Linked DNA regions of Homo sapiens: region 2 is linked to region 1. The links come from fine-mapping of genetic effects on plasma protein levels. A gene starts in region 1. The other region holds a variant in brackets. All regions are shown on one strand. Distances are from middle to middle.

Evidence for each region. A credible set is the group of variants that fine-mapping cannot tell apart. PIP is the chance, under the fine-mapping model, that this variant and not a neighbour inherited with it causes the effect. Protein levels are from antibody-based Olink assays in UK Biobank. Linkage for the fine-mapping came from a reference panel and not from the study's own genotypes, which makes the PIPs less certain.
Region 2: its variant is the best candidate, but not a certain one, in a credible set for the plasma level of the CSF3 protein (UK Biobank, PIP 0.51).

Annotation. Positions count from the first base shown.
Region 1 is chr17:40,014,502-40,023,197 of GRCh38, reverse strand. It overlaps CSF3 (colony stimulating factor 3), which reads right to left and starts at 7,758. Exons shown (of 5, transcript NM_172219.3): 1 at 7,684-7,758; 2 at 7,353-7,507; 3 at 6,858-6,965; 4 at 6,567-6,713; 5 at 5,385-6,403. The coding sequence starts at 7,723. The coding sequence ends at 6,239. It overlaps MED24 (mediator complex subunit 24), which reads left to right. Exons shown (of 26, transcript NM_014815.4): 20 at 1-67; 21 at 372-553; 22 at 714-804; 23 at 1,144-1,243; 24 at 2,845-2,925; 25 at 3,265-3,413; 26 at 3,553-4,094. The coding sequence ends at 3,669. It overlaps PSMD3-AS1 (PSMD3 antisense RNA 1), which reads left to right and starts at 8,557. Exons shown (of 3, transcript NR_198981.1): 1 at 8,557-8,644. RefSeq lists an enhancer at 7,349-7,848.
Region 2 is chr17:39,969,482-39,977,481 of GRCh38, reverse strand. It overlaps GSDMA (gasdermin A), which reads right to left. Exons shown (of 12, transcript NM_178171.5): 4 at 6,835-7,000; 5 at 5,862-5,958; 6 at 5,306-5,353; 7 at 4,869-4,895; 8 at 3,652-3,672; 9 at 3,055-3,209; 10 at 2,468-2,582; 11 at 1,485-1,558; 12 at 1-666. The coding sequence ends at 424. Among named protein-coding and RNA genes, the nearest start is that of PSMD3, 7.3 kb to the left of the region's middle. The variant G/AG (reference allele first, on the strand shown) is at 4,210.

The DNA.
Region 1 (8,696 bases):
CATCCACATCTTTGACACCCTGCTGCACATGGGCGGCGTCTACTGGTTCTGCAACAACCTGATTAAGGTACTTGGGCTGGAGTGGCTGTGGGCCGACATGGGTCCTGTCCCCTGGCTCCCCACACCTGGCCTGGTCTGCCAGGCTTCCCTGAGAGGCTGCCGTGAGCCAGGTGGCCTCCCCGGAATGCCTCGCCTCAGAGTTGCCTCCTTGGGGAGCTCTGGCCAGAGACTGGGATTCAGCCTGAGGGGCGGAGCAACATCTGGGGCCCCCTCTGCGGGCCTTACTGGACAGCCATGCTGGGGTGGCAGGGTGTAGGAGCCCCAGATCCCGGGCCCCTGGCTCCTGAACTGCCCCCTTTCCTGCGCACTAGGAGCTGCTGAAGGAGACGCGGAAGGAGCACACGCTGCGGGCAGTGGAGCTGCTCTACTCCATCTTCTGCCTGGACATGCAGCAAGTGACCCTGGTCCTGCTGGGCCACATCCTACCTGGCCTGCTCACTGACTCCTCCAAGTGGCACAGCCTCATGGACCCCCCGGGCACTGCTCTTGCCAAGTAAGATTCTCTTCAGAGCTTGCCCTGCTCCGGCCACCCAGGGTCAAGCACCCCTCGCCTGGTGCCACCCTGGGAGACTGGGCTTTGGGGAGCCCAGTCAGACACAGAAAGCTCCTGGGGCACCTCTCACTGTCCCCCTTTTTCTGGAACCCTTTGCCAGGCTGGCCGTGTGGTGTGCCCTCAGTTCCTACTCCTCCCACAAGGGACAGGCGTCCACCCGCCAGAAGAAGAGACACCGCGAAGACATTGAGGTAGGCCCCCCAGCTGCCCTCGCCGGCTTCACTTGTTCACCGGTTTGTTACAGCATTTCCTAAGGATTCCCCAGGCAAAGGGAAGCAGTTGTGGCCCCTGCCCTTGGGGCAGCTGTGCCTGGGCATGATTGGTCAGGAATCTGCATGGGTGATTTGTGTGGCCCCAGCTTGCCCATGGGCACAAGGGGCCTGTCAGATTGTGGGAGGGGTTGAGCAGAGAGGGGCTGAGGCCCTGCTAGCCATGCTGACCTCGCTCAAATCGGAGCTCAAGCTCTTTTCCCTGACAGCTGGAAACTGGGGGGTTTAGGGGTGTATAACAGTGACTTTCACTCCCTCTAGGATTATATCAGCCTCTTCCCCCTGGACGATGTGCAGCCTTCGAAGTTGATGCGACTGCTGAGCTCTAATGAGGACGATGCCAACATCCTTTCGAGCCCCAGTGAGTGTGTGGGCTGGCCGCGCGCCGCTCCTTTTCCTGGGAATTCACTCCCCGATGCTGCCACTCTGCCGCTGCCCCAGCTGCAGGCATCTTTGCAGCTGGTCAGAGAGGGTGTGGCAGGGACCTGCTGTTCTAGCCCCCAAGGGGGTGCTCTGTGTCCTGCCCCTGGAGAAGAGGTTGCTGTTCTCACTCCCTGAGGGTTGAAGCTCCTCTGCCCAGGTCCAGCCCAGCCCACAGTTGTTCCCCCACAGCCCTCCTGCCCCTCCCTTACCCCAGGGTTGAGGGGATGACAAGCTACCCAAGTGAGTGAGTTCACTGCCTCAGGCACAGCCTGTGCCATTGACTCACCAGCTCTGACCTTCCTTCCTTCCTTCCCCCAAAACATGCCCGGAGAGGCCCGGGCTGGGGCATGGGGCTACTCCCCACCTTCCTGCCTAAAGAGCACACCCCCCACCAACCACTTCCCTGGAGGTCATCCTTTTCACTGTCCCCTCCTCCCTGCCAGGCTTACTGCCAAGGGTTCCTTCTGTGGCATTTTTCCTGTTTCCAGAGATTTCTCCTGAGCCTGAACTTTTCTCTGAAGCCTTTTAGGAACTAGGGGACCAACTATACACTTGATCAGAAGAAAGATGCTAGGTTTGCCAGCTACAAGTGCTGTGACCTTTAGCTAGCGACTGAGCCAGCCCCCGTCTGGGTCTCCTCATCTGTAAATGGGGTGTTGTGAGGAGTAAGCAGCTTAGGAAGTACCAAGATCGGCCCCTGGCCCTGTGTGCTCACCACATGTTAGTTTTTCTCTCTCATTCCATTGGGATCTCTGTATCTGAGGTCCCTCTGTGCCCTTTTTTTGTTTTGTTTTTTGTTTGTTTGTTTGTTTGTTTGTTTGAGTTGGAGTCTCCCTCTGTTGCCCAGGCTGGAGTGCAGTCGCACGATCTCAGCTTACTGCAACCTCCGCCTCCTGGGTTTAAGCAATTTTCCTGTCTCAGCCTCCTGAGTCTCTGGGACTACAGGCGCCTGCCACAACGCCTGGCTAATTTTTGTATTTTTAGTAGAGACGGGGTTTCACCATATTGGTCAGGCTGGTCTCGAACTCCTGAACTCAGATGATCCACCCGCCTTGGCCTCCCAAAGTGCTGGGATTACAGGCGTGAGCCACCACGCCCAGCCTGTTTTTCTGAGACACGGTTTTGCTCTGTTGCTCAGGCTGGAGTGCAGTGGCACCATCTCGGCTCACTGCAGCCTTGTTCTCCTAGGCTCAAGCAGTCTGCCTCAGCCTCCCGAGGAGCTGGGACTACAGGCGTTGGCACCACACCCAGCTAATTTTTGTATTTTTTGTAGAGATGAGGTCTCGCTAGTTGCCAAGGCTGGTCTCAAACTCCTGGACTCAAGCGATCCTCCTGCCTCGGCCTCCCAAAATGCTGGGATTACAGGTGTGAGCCACTGTACCTGGCCTCCCTTTGTGCTCTTGATCTCAGGGTCTTCTCTGGGCTCTCCATGTACCAGTTACCTCCGATGGGTGAAGGTCGGGTTGGGGCATCCCCGGGGAGCACCACTTTTGCACTCGGCAGGCTGTTTCCCAGCGCTCCATCTGCTCCGTCCCACAGCAGACCGATCCATGAGCAGCTCCCTCTCAGCCTCTCAGCTCCACACGGTCAACATGCGGGACCCTCTGAACCGAGTCCTGGGTGAGTTCCCCACCCCTGCTGCCGAACCTGGGGCTAAGCTGGACGAGTCTCTCTTCTCATGGAGGCTGGGAGACCTTGTCAGCTGGAAGGGGCCTTGCGGTGCCCCTCCCTTCCCTCTCCATGCCCCTCATTGTTGGCTGTCCTGGCCCCCAGGCTCCTGTCTAGTTCCCCCTCCTCCCCTCCCCAATTGCCTTTTATATTTTCTCTCTCTGACACCCCATTTTGGGGACATGCTCAGCATGTGTTTCTTTTCCCTTTTCAGTCCCACCTTCTCCCAGAGTGTGACCTCACCCACTCTCATGGAACTCCCTCCTGTCACTCTCCCCCCACTCTCTACAGCCAACCTGTTCCTGCTCATCTCCTCCATCCTGGGGTCTCGCACCGCTGGCCCCCACACCCAGTTCGTGCAGTGGTTCATGGAGGAGTGTGTGGACTGCCTGGAGCAGGGTGGCCGTGGCAGCGTCCTGCAGTTCATGCCCTTCACCACCGTGAGTACCACCTTCCCGGCTCTCCTGCTGGTGCTGGGGCCTCGGGGCAGCCCTTAGAGCAGGGAGGGGCCTCCTTCCCCCTGGGACAGCACACCCACCACCAGCCGTCCCGCAAGCAGCATCTGTCTGTCCGTGGCAGGTGTCGGAACTGGTGAAGGTGTCAGCCATGTCCAGCCCCAAGGTGGTTCTGGCCATCACGGACCTCAGCCTGCCCCTGGGCCGCCAGGTGGCTGCTAAAGCCATTGCTGCACTCTGAGGGGCTTGGCATGGCCGCAGTGGGGGCTGGGGACTGGCGCAGCCCCAGGCGCCTCCAAGGGAAGCAGTGAGGAAAGATGAGGCATCGTGCCTCACATCCGCTCCACATGGTGCAAGAGCCTCTAGCGGCTTCCAGTTCCCCGCTCCTGACTCCTGACCTCCAGGATGTCTCCCGGTTTCTTCTTTCAAAATTTCCTCTCCATCTGCTGGCACCTGAGGAGAGTGAGCAGCCTGGACCACAAGCCCAGTGGTCACCCCTGTGTGCGCCCGCCCCAGCCCAGGAGTAGTCTTACCTCTGAGGAACTTTCTAGATGCAAAGTGTGTATGTGTGTGTGTGTGTGTGTGTGTGTGTGTTTGTGTGTATTTTGTAATATGTGAGGGAAATCTACCTTCGTTCATGTATAAATAAAGCTCCTCGTGGCTCCCTTTGTGACTGTGTGTGCTGTTGGTATTGGTGCCACCCGGGGCAGGGCATAGTGTCCTCTCCCTGGACTCCTGTGCTGTGGCCAGGGAACGGCTCACTCCTGTGGTGAGGAGGAGGAGGAAGAGGAGCAGAGGCGGCAGGGCTCAGGGTCCTATGTGGGCTTGCTCAGCTGGGGAAGGGCCAGGGGAAAGCAGCTTCCCTTCCTTGGAGCCAAGTTGGCTGGCCTGCTGCCCCCTCCCCCAAAGCCAGCTGTACCCTGAAAGGGGAGAGGCTTTGGCTCAGGGCCCCACAGTGCTGGGGCAGGGTGGCCTGCTCTGCTGTCTCCCGAACCTGGTCCAACACCACCCACACTCTGACTAGCCTGGGATTTGATCTGTTGCCTCCAAAAAAGGACTGGGGGATGGGAGGCGGGGGGATGAGGGGCCGGACCTTTCTTTAACCCTTCCTTGCCTGCCTCACACATCTCTGAGCCCCTAGATGGATGACTCCGAGCTGGCAGTGGGAACTTCTGACCCTGCTTTCCGAGGAGCCACGGGCAGGGGAGGTGGGAGGGACTGAGGAGCTGAGGAGGAGAAGGTTTGGGCAGATAGTGGACTGGGGACTGGTGGGGGTACCCCAAAGCCACACAGGAGTCTTTGGCTGCAGGCAGGCCTCACACCTGTGGTGCGGTCGCTGCCCCCCCTGCTTGCCACAGCTCCCCACCCTCCTGGGCTGTGAGCTTAGCGCTCTTCAGCCCAAGGCTGCCACAAGCAGGAAGTGACCAGCTGGGGCGAGTGCAGAGACCGAGTCTGAGGAGAGAAGCTCTGACCCCAGTGGTCACCTTGAACTTGGCTTCCACTTTGTGGGCAACTTGATGGATGGGCTCAAGTTTATGGAAGATGGTAAATGACAAGCCTGGTGCAGATGCTCAGCACTCCCTGGCTTCATCTTGTCTGGCTGTGTCTGGCCTGTTAAGCCCACCCAGACCCCATGCCCTCTCCTTTCCGGGTTCCCATGGTCCCTGTGCCTCTGTCTTCCCTGCCAGGCTTTGGCTGCTCGAGTGCAGATTCCATGTCTGCCTTGTTCCCTGCTGTGTCCCCAGCACTTAGCCCAGCGTCTGCACAGAGTAGGTGCTCAGATAAATATGTGCTAACGGAATGAATGTCAGACGAACTTGAGAACTTTCCTCCTCCTCCCTGGACCTCCTCCCCAGACCTCCTCCCCGACCTCCCTCTGGCCTCTCCCACCCTTCAGCCACCTCCCCAGCCCCTGGCCAGGCACCAGCTGGACTCAAGAAGGAGGAAGGACGTGACTGGAGGCAAACACTTTATTATCCTGAAGTTCAGTTACAATGTGACAGTGGAGGGGACACTGGTGAGTGGGGGGTGAAGAGGTGGAGGGTGACAGTGGAGCTTCCTTTCACACACAGGCCTGACATGATTCCTCCTGTCTGCTCCCTCCCACATCCCCAGTCCCCGTCCAGCAAGGCAAATGTCCAGGCACCTGCCTGGCCCTAAAAAGAGTCACAGTCCTGACCCTCGTGGGGGCAGGGCAGGTGTCCCGAGGCCACCCAGAAAAACAGGAGACGCGTCGGTGATGTTCGGGAGTCAAACCATGTCCCAAAAGTCTTAAGAAGAAAAACGAGATTCCCCAGCAAATTCGTGGGACCCCAGGGCCATGCCTCCCAGCTCTGGCCACCTCTGCTTGTCCAGGGGCCTCACAGCCAAGGGGATGCAGGGGCCGCTGTGCAGTCGGCTGAGGCCAGAGTGAGGGGTGCAAGGACCCAGATGGGGAACACTGCTGTTTAAATATTAAACAGGGATTTCTTGTCTCCCACGTGGGAGACCTGATACTCTCAAGGGTCCCAGGTGGGGACCCTCAGGACCAGGGGCTCACAGCGGCTCATCCCAGTGCCCATTGCAGAGCCAGGGCTGGGGAGCAGTCATAGTAATAAATACTTGGTATTTACCTATCTACCTCCCAGTCCAGGGGATGGGAGGACAGGAGCTTTTTCTCACTGCTACAGGCAGGAGAATGAAACTCAGAAATGCAGGGAAGGACACAGAGGCCTGGGGCTCCGTTCTGCTCTTCCCTGTCTTTAAATATGAGGCTTAAATAGACATAAATATTAAATAGAGATAAATACATGGGATGGGGAGGGCTTGGCTCAGGGCTGGGCAAGGTGGCGTAGAACGCGGTACGACACCTCCAGGAAGCTCTGCAGATGGGAGGCAACCAGGACCCCTCCTGCCCGGCGCTGGAAAGCAGAGGCGAAGGCCGGCATGGCACCCTGGGTGGGCTGCAGGGCAGGGGCCATTCCCAGTTCTTCCATCTGTGGGGGAAAGCTGTGATCAGTGGTTGGGCCCTTCTGAGTGGGCGTTATTACAAATGAGGAAATGCTGGGGGTGACAGCATGGACAGGGCCCATACACAGGCCTGGCTGTGGTGCCCAGAATGCCAGCACGACCTTGGCCACCCTGCCCAACAAGGCTCACCTGCTGCCAGATGGTGGTGGCAAAGTCGGCGACGTCCAGCTGCAGTGTGTCCAAGGTGGGACCCAACTCGGGGGAGATCCCTTCCAGGGCCTGCAGGAGCCCCTGGTAGAGGAAAAGGCCGCTATGGAGTTGGCTCAAGCAGCCTGCCTGTGAGACAGAGCGGAAGAGTTAGGGGGTGCTGCCTGAGATACGTCAGGCCCCCAGCTTGGAACCTGGAGACATGGGGGAGCCCATGGGTGTTCCTCCTCTCCTTCCCCCTCCTCATTAGCCTTATCCTTTCCTGACACTCACCAGCTGCAGGGCCTGGCTGGGGCAGCTGCTCAGGGGAGCCCAGGGGATGCCCAGAGAGTGTCCGAGCAGCACCAGCTCCTCGGGGTGGCACAGCTTGTAGGTGGCACACTGGGGATGGAAGGATGCTGAGTGAGACTCGCCATGGCCGGGTCGCCGCTCCTTCCCGGGTCCTCCCCGACTCTCTGGTCTTTCCCCTCCCTCCATGTCCTGCCAGGCTGTTCAGTTCCTCTCTGCCCTGCACCCCCACTCTCTGATCTCACAGGGGCCCTTGCCCTTTCTCCTGAATGTAATGCCTCCACTCCCATCCCAGCCAGCCCTCCCGAGCACTGTCCCCACCAAGGTCCTCCTCCCCAAGTCCCTTCCCAGCCTTCCCCAGCTCCACTGCTCCTAATATTCTCCCACGTCCCTTCCAGAGGATGTTGGCCCTGCAGTTCCATCCCCCTTAGCTCTCCCCACCGGGCTTCCCTCCACAGCCCTCTCACCCACCTCACTCACCAGCTTCTCCTGGAGCGCTGCGCCATCGCCCTGGATCTTCCTCACTTGCTCTAAGCACTTGAGCAGGAAGCTCTGGGGCAGGGAGCTGGCAGGGCCCAGGGGGGTGGCTTCCTGCACTGTCCAGAGTGCACTGTGCCACAGCAGCAGCTGCAGGGCTGGGGACAGAGCGGGCTCAGGAGACATGCTGTTCCCTACCACCTGAGGCCCTCTCGGGGACACTGGGTGCCTTTAATCCCCATTCCCAGAACGGGGATCCCCAGCCCCTCTGTCACACCAGCCTCCCTCCCATGCCAGGGCAGGCGGCTCTCCCATCCTGGGCCAAGACACTCACCCATCAGCTTCATGGGGCTCTGGGTGGCAGGTCCAGCCATGGGTCTGGGTGGGGCTGGGCTGCAGGCTCCGGGCTGTTTTGGGGCCCAGCTCTAGGGGGGCCTTTATACATAACCCCATGGAGGCCTGGGAGGAAATTACCTGGGGCCACGACTAAGGCTTAGTAATAACTTCCCAGGATTTATGCAAATTTGGTGTCCAAGACAATGCAGGGGGGTTGGAACAAAAAGCTGTTTGCGAAAGTTTTGTGAAATTGTGGAATCTCTGATCCTCCTTTGACGTCGCCTTGCCCCCCTCAAACTCCCTTCCTCCCGCTGCCCCACCCAGGCCTGAATGGCCCCAGAGTGTTTGAACAGAACAGCTGAACAAAGGCTGAGCCGCTGATAGACGCCTGGAAGCGGCAGCAGCCTGTGGGGAAGTGGCAGCTGAGTCGGGGTCTCCCTCTCTGCTCTGGCAGACTTGCGGGGGCAGTGTCCTTTGCCCCTCTCCTTTGGGATTCTCAAGCCTGTCCCCCAAGCCCCCAAATTCTAAGAGAGAAAAAAAGAAGCTGGTTGCTCCCATTCCTACCCCCAAACTCTCCGGAGGCTGCCTGTCTGGGAGACCTCCTGAGCCCCTACCTGAGATAAGGACATTGGGTCTTGGCTGCTGTGCCCACCCCACACTTGGATAGGCACCATCGAAAGTTCCAGGCTGTCCTGTCCCAAGTTGATTAGCTGGGAACTCCCCCAGAAACCCCCCCGCCCCCCATGACTCATTCGGCTAAAGCCCCTAGAATCCCGGTAGAGCCAGAGGAAACCGGATGTCTGTCCCGAATGAGGCAAGACCCTTCGAGGCGATTGGCTCACCTGACCTTCACCTCCTCGTGCACGACCCTGACAGTAGGGTCCCCAAGGGCTTTGGAACTGCGGGATTGGGACACGTGACTTCCCTGGTCATTCACCTTGAAGTGGACACGGGCTGGGGTGAGAGAGGGGAAACTGCCCCATCTTCTCATCTTAGAACCATGCAGCGTTA
Region 2 (8,000 bases), 45 kb after region 1:
CGTCTCTACTAAAAATACAAAAATTAGCTGGGTGTCGTGGCACGTGCCTGTAATTCCAGCTGCTCGAGAGGCTGAGGCAGGAGAATTGCTTGAACCTGGGAGGCGGAGGTTGCAGTGAGCCAAGATCAAGCCACTGCACTCCAGCCTGGGTGACAGAGTGAGCCTCCATCTCAAAAAAAAAAAAAAAAAGAAAAGAAAAGTAAAGAAAATTTAAGCATCAGCAGATGGGCTTAGTGGGTTGCGGAGCTGGAGGGGTAGGGGGTGATATATGGTTGGGCAGGTGGAAGTTGGTTATCATGGGTGACCAGCTGAGATTTCAGATGTCTTCAGCTGATGGCTCTGAAATGCCCTTAGGTGGTAAGGACACAGCACCACGAGGTTGGGAAGGCATTAGGGAGTCATGAAGCAGACGTAAAAGGCAAATTAGGAGGCCTTGGTAAGCTGCTGAAGGAGAGAGAGGCCTGCATAAAGAGCACAGAGGCGAGGGAGGGTGTCTGGGTCCCACATATATTGGGGGCCCGATCTCTGCACTTCCAGGCCACTCAGCCCGACTAGAGCCTCCGTGAGGGTCAGCTCCTCGTCCCCAAGGGAGGAGAGCAGCTCAGGTTGCAGGGGGAAAACACCCTCTTTATCCAGCAGGAAGTTCTGTTCCATCGTGCTCTCCACCTGGAGGGAATCAAAACAGCATGAAAAGAAAGAACTGGAAACCTCTCTCCTCTCCTAACTCACAAAAATCACAAGAAGGTTACATTCCCCTTATTAGAATTCCTTACTTTACCTTACATTACAACCCCATCTGGGTCTTTGAACAGCCCTATACAGTGGGCAGCACATTGATTTTTAGCCCCATTTTACAGAGGAATAAATTGAGACAGACTCAGACACAGTAAAAAATTTGCTCACAGGCCAGGCGAGGTGGCTCACACCTGTAATCCCAGCACTTTGGGAGGCTGAGGTGGGCAGATCACCTGAGGTCAGGAGTTTGAGACCAGCCTGGCCAACATGGTGAAACCCTGTCTCTACTAAAAATACAAAATTAGCAGGGTGTGGTGGTGGGCGCCTGTAATCCCAGCTACTCGGGAGGCTGAGGCAGGAGAATCGCTTGAACCCGGGAGGCGGAGGTTGTGGTGAGCCAAGATCGCACCATTGCACTCCAGCCTGGGCAAAAAGAGTGAAACTCTATCTCAAAAAAAAAAAAAAAAAAATTTGCTTACAATATTTGGCTAGGAATAAGCAAAGCCACAGTTTCTGTCTCTTCTCCCAAGATCAGGCTAATAAACCCAGATTATTGCCCAGAAATTCAGTCTTCTACCTCTTGTGAAATAACAAAAAATGAGAAATAGAGAGAGAAAGGAGGAGTGGGCATAAGCCCCTGGGATAAGACAGGGATCCTCCAGAATGGCTCCATCCTTAGGCGAAATCTGCATCTCCACTGGCTGCAGCTACTCCCAGACTCTCCCCAGCATCTGCTGTTTTTCCCTCACCAGCTTTAGCTGCACGGGTAGGATCTTTTTCTCCATGGATTTCACCAGCAGCTTCTGTTGGGCTTCACTTAGCTCTGGAGAAAAAAAGCAGAGAAAGATGTGTGTTGCTGGTGCAGAGGGGACTACAGCCTCCAAATAGCGCACTTCCAGAATTTCAGCCTTCATTCATTGGATGTAATTACAACGCAGGTGTTAAGGGAGCCATAGCTGAGGGGTCCACTTTGGTCTTGGAGTCGGAGGGCAGGCTTCCTAAGGGAACAAACGTTTTGGCTTACACCTGAAGGACCACAGAGTTTTTCTAAGTGGAAAACTAGAAAATGTGGAGGGAAGAAGAGCTCTTAGGGGCAAGATAAGAAAATGTTACTCCCTGAAGTTAAAGCTAACAGGTATCAGGATAGAAGTGATGAGCTTAGCTATATGCAGAAATTTTAAATATGTTGCTGATAAAACTAGGGTTATTCAACCTCTATTAGCAAGACTAGGCTGTCTTCTCAGACTACCCAATGTGACCAAGCAAATCCTTAGGAATGAAACCAATTTTTTTTTTTTTTGATGGAGTCTCGCTCTGTTGCCCAGGCTGGAGTGCAATGGAGTGATCTCGGCTCACTGCACCCTCCCCCTCCTGGGTTCAAGCGATTCTCCTGCCTTAGCCTTCAGAGTAGCTGGGATTACAGGCACCTGCCACCACGCCCGGCTAATTTTTCTATTTTTGGAAGAGGCGGGGTTTCACCATGTTGGCCAGGCTGATCTCGAACTCTTGATCACGGGTGATCCATCCACCTTGGCCTCCCAAAGTGCTGGGATTACAGGCATGAGCCACTGCAGCCAGCCATGAAACCAATTTATAAAAATGTAGATATAAACTACTTAACTGTGGTATAATTTGTCATTCATTCATTTATTCATCCATTTGGGAATTGATTCAAGTGATTCATTCCTATTACTGAAAAGGTCTATAAATGAAGACCTTATTCCCCACTTACCTGTTAGGGCTCCAACGAAATAGAGGATGGCGCCCACGGCCTCCTTTGATAGCAGGACATCTTTTGGGAGTGCCTCCAGGGTCACTTCATGTCCCTTGTCTAGAGCCCCTTCAAGCTGTGGGGGAAGGTGGGCGACTATTGAAGATAACATAGGAAAGGGCCCAACCCAGGGCCCAGCACATAATAACCCCTTGACATGCGGAAACTCTCTCCATTTCCTGATTTCTTTTTCGAGGCCTCATGTCCTGAAGAGTACTGGACTCCTGGGTTCCTTGTTTCCTGAGTTTTGGACTCTGGAAAGAGAAGGTTCCAGCCCCTCCAGCAGAAGTCCCTTCTGGCCATCAGAGGGAGCATGTGCCTTGGGGGAACCCACTGTTTGCCCTTTTCCAGGGGACAAAGGGAGGAGCAGTGGCCTGGCAGCCTTGGGGCACGTGGCCAGCCTTGGGGAAGGTATCTAAGGTGGACTCCCCTGGCCACCCACCTCCTGCCCCCGTCAGATCTCCCTACCTGCTGCAATACCCGCCCCCACCAAATCTTCACCAAAACATGCCTTCTCCCACCCTTCCCCACTTCCACTAGGTCCTCACTGCGAGCTCAAGGTCTTGTAGCTCCTTTTTCTTCCCTAGAAGTTTGCTGAGGGAGCTGAGCAGGGAGCTTTGCCCTACTCGGCTCAGCTTCTCCACTTGTTGGGTCTCTCTCTGAACTTCTTCTTTTAGTGTCCTGAAGCCTTCGTGTACGTCCCCTATGGGGACAATAATGGGACACACAGCCCTCCATCGGGCACCTTCCTCTCCAGTCAGCATTCCCCCTGCAGGGCTCCTACACTCAGCCCCCTTTAGGTACCCATGCTCTACCCCCCAGTTTGAGCCTGGCCCCATTTTTCTTTACCAAGGAATGCGGTGACAGAACTATCCACCAACCCTAACCTGAGGGTTGGGGCGAGAAGGTGGGCCAGGATGCATGTATCATCTAACCCAACAGTTAATCTTCCTGAGATCCCAGGCCTTATCCCATATCAGTACACACTTGACTTTTCTTTGAGACTCCAGCAAAAAGTGGAGAAAGAAAGTCTGTTTTCCCTTCCCATGAGTTAGCTGACAAAGAATGACTTCGCCTTCTCCTCTCTCTGCCCCTAATGCTACCTCCATGCCAAAGTCTTGGGAGAAACTCACAAAGTTCCTTACCAACATCAGATGCCTGGATAACTGAGAAAAAAAGGAAAAAAAAAAGATAAGAATGCAATCCTTCAGAATGGCAGCCATACCCAGGGGTTGAGACACTAAGGAAGATGAGGAAATACATCCTGCCTGTCTCCTGGGAGAGCCCAGCTACCTTGTTCCTGGCATTACTGTGACTCAGTGGCTCTGGCCCCAGTTGCTGGGCGGCCGAGTTGCAGATGTGTGTGTAGCAGGTTATAGCTACTAAGACTCTTAATTTTTTTTTTTTTTTTCTAGGCCAGGCTCAGTGGCTCACACCTGTGATCCCAGCACTTTGGGAGGCCAAGGTGGGAGGATCACCTGAGGTCAGGAGTTTGAGACCAGCCTGGCCAACATGGTGAAACCCCATCTATACTAAAAATTCGCCGAGTGTGGTGGCCCGCGCCTGTTATCCTAGCTACTCAGGAGGCTGAGGCACAAGAATTGCTTGAACCTGGGAGGCAGAGTTTGCAGTGAGTGGAGATCTCACCTTTGCACTCCAGTCTGGGCAACAGAATGAGACTCTGTCTCAAGAAAAAAAAAAAA[G/AG]GCCAGGCGCCGTGGCTCACGCCTGTAATCCCAATACTTTGGGAGGCTGAGGTGGGTGGATCACCTGAGGTCAGGAGTTCAAGACCTGCCTGACCAACATGGTGAAACCCCATCTCTACTAAAAATACAAAAAATTAGCAGGGCATGGTGGCGGGTGCCTGTAATCCCAGCTACTCCGGAGGCTGAGGCAGGAGAATCACTTGAACCGGGGAGGTGGAGGTTGCAGTGGACTGAGATTGCGCCACTACACTCCAGCCTGGGCAACAAGAGTGAAACTCCATCCAAAAAAAAATTTTTTTTTTTAAATAGAGACATTGTCTCACTATGTTGCCCAGGCTGGTCTTGAACTCCTGAGCTCAAGGGATCCTCCTGCCTCAGCCTCCCAAAGTGCTGGGATTATAGGTGTGAATCACTGTGCCTGGCTGCTAGTAAGGCTGTTGAGGACAAAGGTCTCAGGCGTCAGACCACCTGGGCAAAGACTCCCCCCTTTCCACTGCTTTTTCCCAAGCTATTGGAATTTCTGCCATGTTTCGGGGACAATTATTTGCTGAGATTCGCTCTGCTATTTCCCTGTCAGTCCTGTCAGAAGGAAAGAAAAAGACTGGAGTTTTAAAATTTGGAGTCAAGAAAGTTTCAGTGGAATGAAAGGAAACACTTACGGATGACCTTCTCCTCTCCTGACTTTTCTGAAGACAGAAAAAATGCACATCTGTCAGCACAAAACCCATTTTTGCCTTTTCATCTAAAACAGTCTTCAAGGCAGTTTCATCAGTGATCATTATAAAAACACAGGGAGATTATGCTAGCTCATCCACCCCCATGATTCGGGAACACACTCAGTCTCCAAGTCTTACTTCTGCTTCTGACTGTGCCTTCCGGTCTCTGTCTGTCAGTTTCTATATCTCTCTGGGACAGTATTTATATGCCTCTATCTGTCTTTCTAAAGTTGAGGCTAGGTATTCTTAGGGACTTGGGAAACAAAAGCAGAGGCTCCTTGGGGGATTATAGTATAAGCTAGGAGAGGGTGGAGGATTTTGGCAGATAATGTCAGGGGTAGGGCGGAAGATGTGGGAAGCCCGTAAGCAATTTCACTTACCTCCAGGAGGGAAGGTTTGCATGTTATCATTGCAGATATGTGGAATATCTGTGAAGGGCAAGGGAGGGAGGGTGGGAGGACACTTAGCAGCTGCCCCACATTCCCTTCTTCAGTCTCAAGCCAAAGGGCTCTGCTAAGGGCTAGGACCTTGCACCCCAAATGCTTCATTTAATTCCCAGCTTCAACCTCCATTGCTGGAAGCAATCTTTTCTTCCTTGATAAATTCTCTACTATGAGAACACTACTTTCTATCATCCATTCCAGTCTCTGTCTGTTTCCTCCTTTGGCCACAGACTTCTTGAGAGCAGAGGCAGTGCATGTTCATATTTGTACCCCCTCCCCCAATAACCACAGTGCCCAGCACCCAGAAGATGCTCAGAATCCAGGAGCCTCTTCACCCTTCTCTCCAGAGCAGGCTCCATGGCTGCAGTCGGATCACAGTACAATACACCCCCCTACTCATTCTCTGACATTTCCGCAAGAGGGGACCAGGGTGCCTCAGTACTGGTGCAGGTAATTCTCATCTTGTGGGGAGAACATGCGGGTCTCTGCTCACCCCACTCATCTTTGCCTTTGACCATCAGCTGTCTCACTCGAAAGGCCAGGACGCAGCCCTTGGGGATGGTTACAGCCTCCTTGTGATTTATGGATCCCTAGAATTAGACAATGAGAATTTGTGAATCTCTGGACATCTTAAGTATGAGATATTGGGAGCGTGAGTTGGGGGAGGTGCAGGGTCAGGGCTGAGAGCCTTCAGGGAGATAAGAAGCTGGAAGCCTTCAGTGGTGTCCCTGGTCTGGACTCTGAGGAAGGACTTCAAAGTCCTTGTGCTCATTTCTGCTGATTTTCCCTCTAGTGACCTGGTTCAGGTCAGTAGAGTCTAGTCAGGTCAGTTCTAGTTCCTGGTTCAGATGCATGAAGGGAACTGGGCAGACCTGCTCCATCTCCTGCCTGTACATCACCCTAGAGCTTCCATCCAAGCCCTGGCTCCTTCTTCCTCTTCACCATCTGTCCCATGCTTACCTCTTTCAGGACGCCTTCCATGACTAACCCCTACTCCTGGCTCCAAATCCCAAATCATCCCTTGAATATTTAGATGCAATAGATAGAGGTATGGAGACCATTCCTTATTTCCATTGGCTTTTCCAAGCCTGTGTTCTCTGGGCTTTAGCCTCTGTGTCTCCTCTATGAACCTGATGACTTTCCGAGAGTAAAGATGTCTCCTCTTTGGAATGGGAGCACCACGAGGGAAAACCCAGGAATGTGACTTTCCCCTTCCCCAGTAGTTCCCTGTGGCATCTGGCGCAGGGATCTGCCCTCACTGGGTGCCACTGACCAGGGAGGGGGCATATGTCTGGGGTTTGGATCTTTAAGAGCCGGGGGAAGGAGTGGCCCTTTTCAGCATCCTCGGTGGGCGCTGATCAGGCAAAGCTAATGAAGCCTCCAAGGAGGGGCTGAATGTAAATGTGTATGTGTGAGTGTGAGTGTGAGAGTGTGTGTGTGTGTGTGTGTGTGTGTTTGAATCAAACCTGTAGCCCCAATGGGGCGAAGAAGGGGAGGGAGAAGCAGGCCTCTGCCTTGCCGGCTCGCTCCAGTGTGACCTCCTGCACCGTCTCCACCACCTCCATCACCACATACAGGTTCTCCCCTTGATCTTGCATCTCCTTCAGGAATGGGTGGTCTGCTGCCAGCTTCCTGTTGCAGGAGAAACATAAGGGAACCGTTCAGAGCTCCTTCCTGCCTGTACCACACCCTCCTCTTTCCTTCTGTCATTCCCAGGAACTAGACATTGTGGTGGCAGGGAAGGAGTGAGGACTCTGGACTAGGGCTGAGGTTGAAACCCAGATCTCATGCTTACTGGCAGGGCAGCTTCTCTGAGTCTTAATTGCCTCATCTATGAAATGAGTATAATGATGCTGACCTCCTGGGTTGCTCAGAGATAAACTCGGTAATTGGGCCAGCACCTGGCCAGGAACAGGGCCTCTTGGGTGCTTCTTACCCCCTTTTCCTCCAGTTCGGGGGTAGATGCTCCCCCCCTCTTTCCTCCCCATTCATCTCTCTGGGATCCCGGGGGTAGATGCTCCCCCCCTCTTTCCTCCCCATTCATCTCTCTGGGATCCTTTCTCTCCACATCTTATGCTCTCTCTTGCTGTTAACACCAGTTCCTCCTCTCCACTTGCTCCTTCTGTCTGCTTCCATATATAAACTCCCTAATCCTAACAAATTTGTTTGCTTTGATCATGCCACTCCCTCAAATTACTACCCTATTTTTTCCTTCATTTCATTGGCAAATATATCAAAAAAATTCTTTTTTTTTTTGAGACGGAGTCTCACTCACTCTGTCACCCAGGCTGGAGTGCAGTGGCACGATCTTGGCTCACTACAACCTCTGCCTCCCGGGTTCAAGCGATTCTTCTCCCTCAGCCTCCTGAATAGCTGGGATTACAGATGTGAGCCACCATGCCCGGTCCACCTAAATTCTTTATAATTTGCCTTGTATTTCCACTACTCAGCTGAAATTACAATGATCTCTTACCTGTCAGTCTCAATGACCTCGCCTAACTCTGTGCAATACTCGATCCTGCTGTGGAAACCCTCCGTGCAACGCTGGCTTCTCTTGGCTTCCAGTCACAGTGTACCACCCTGGCTCAACTCCAGTACTTCTAGTTCCTAAATCTTATCCATTCTGTCTGCA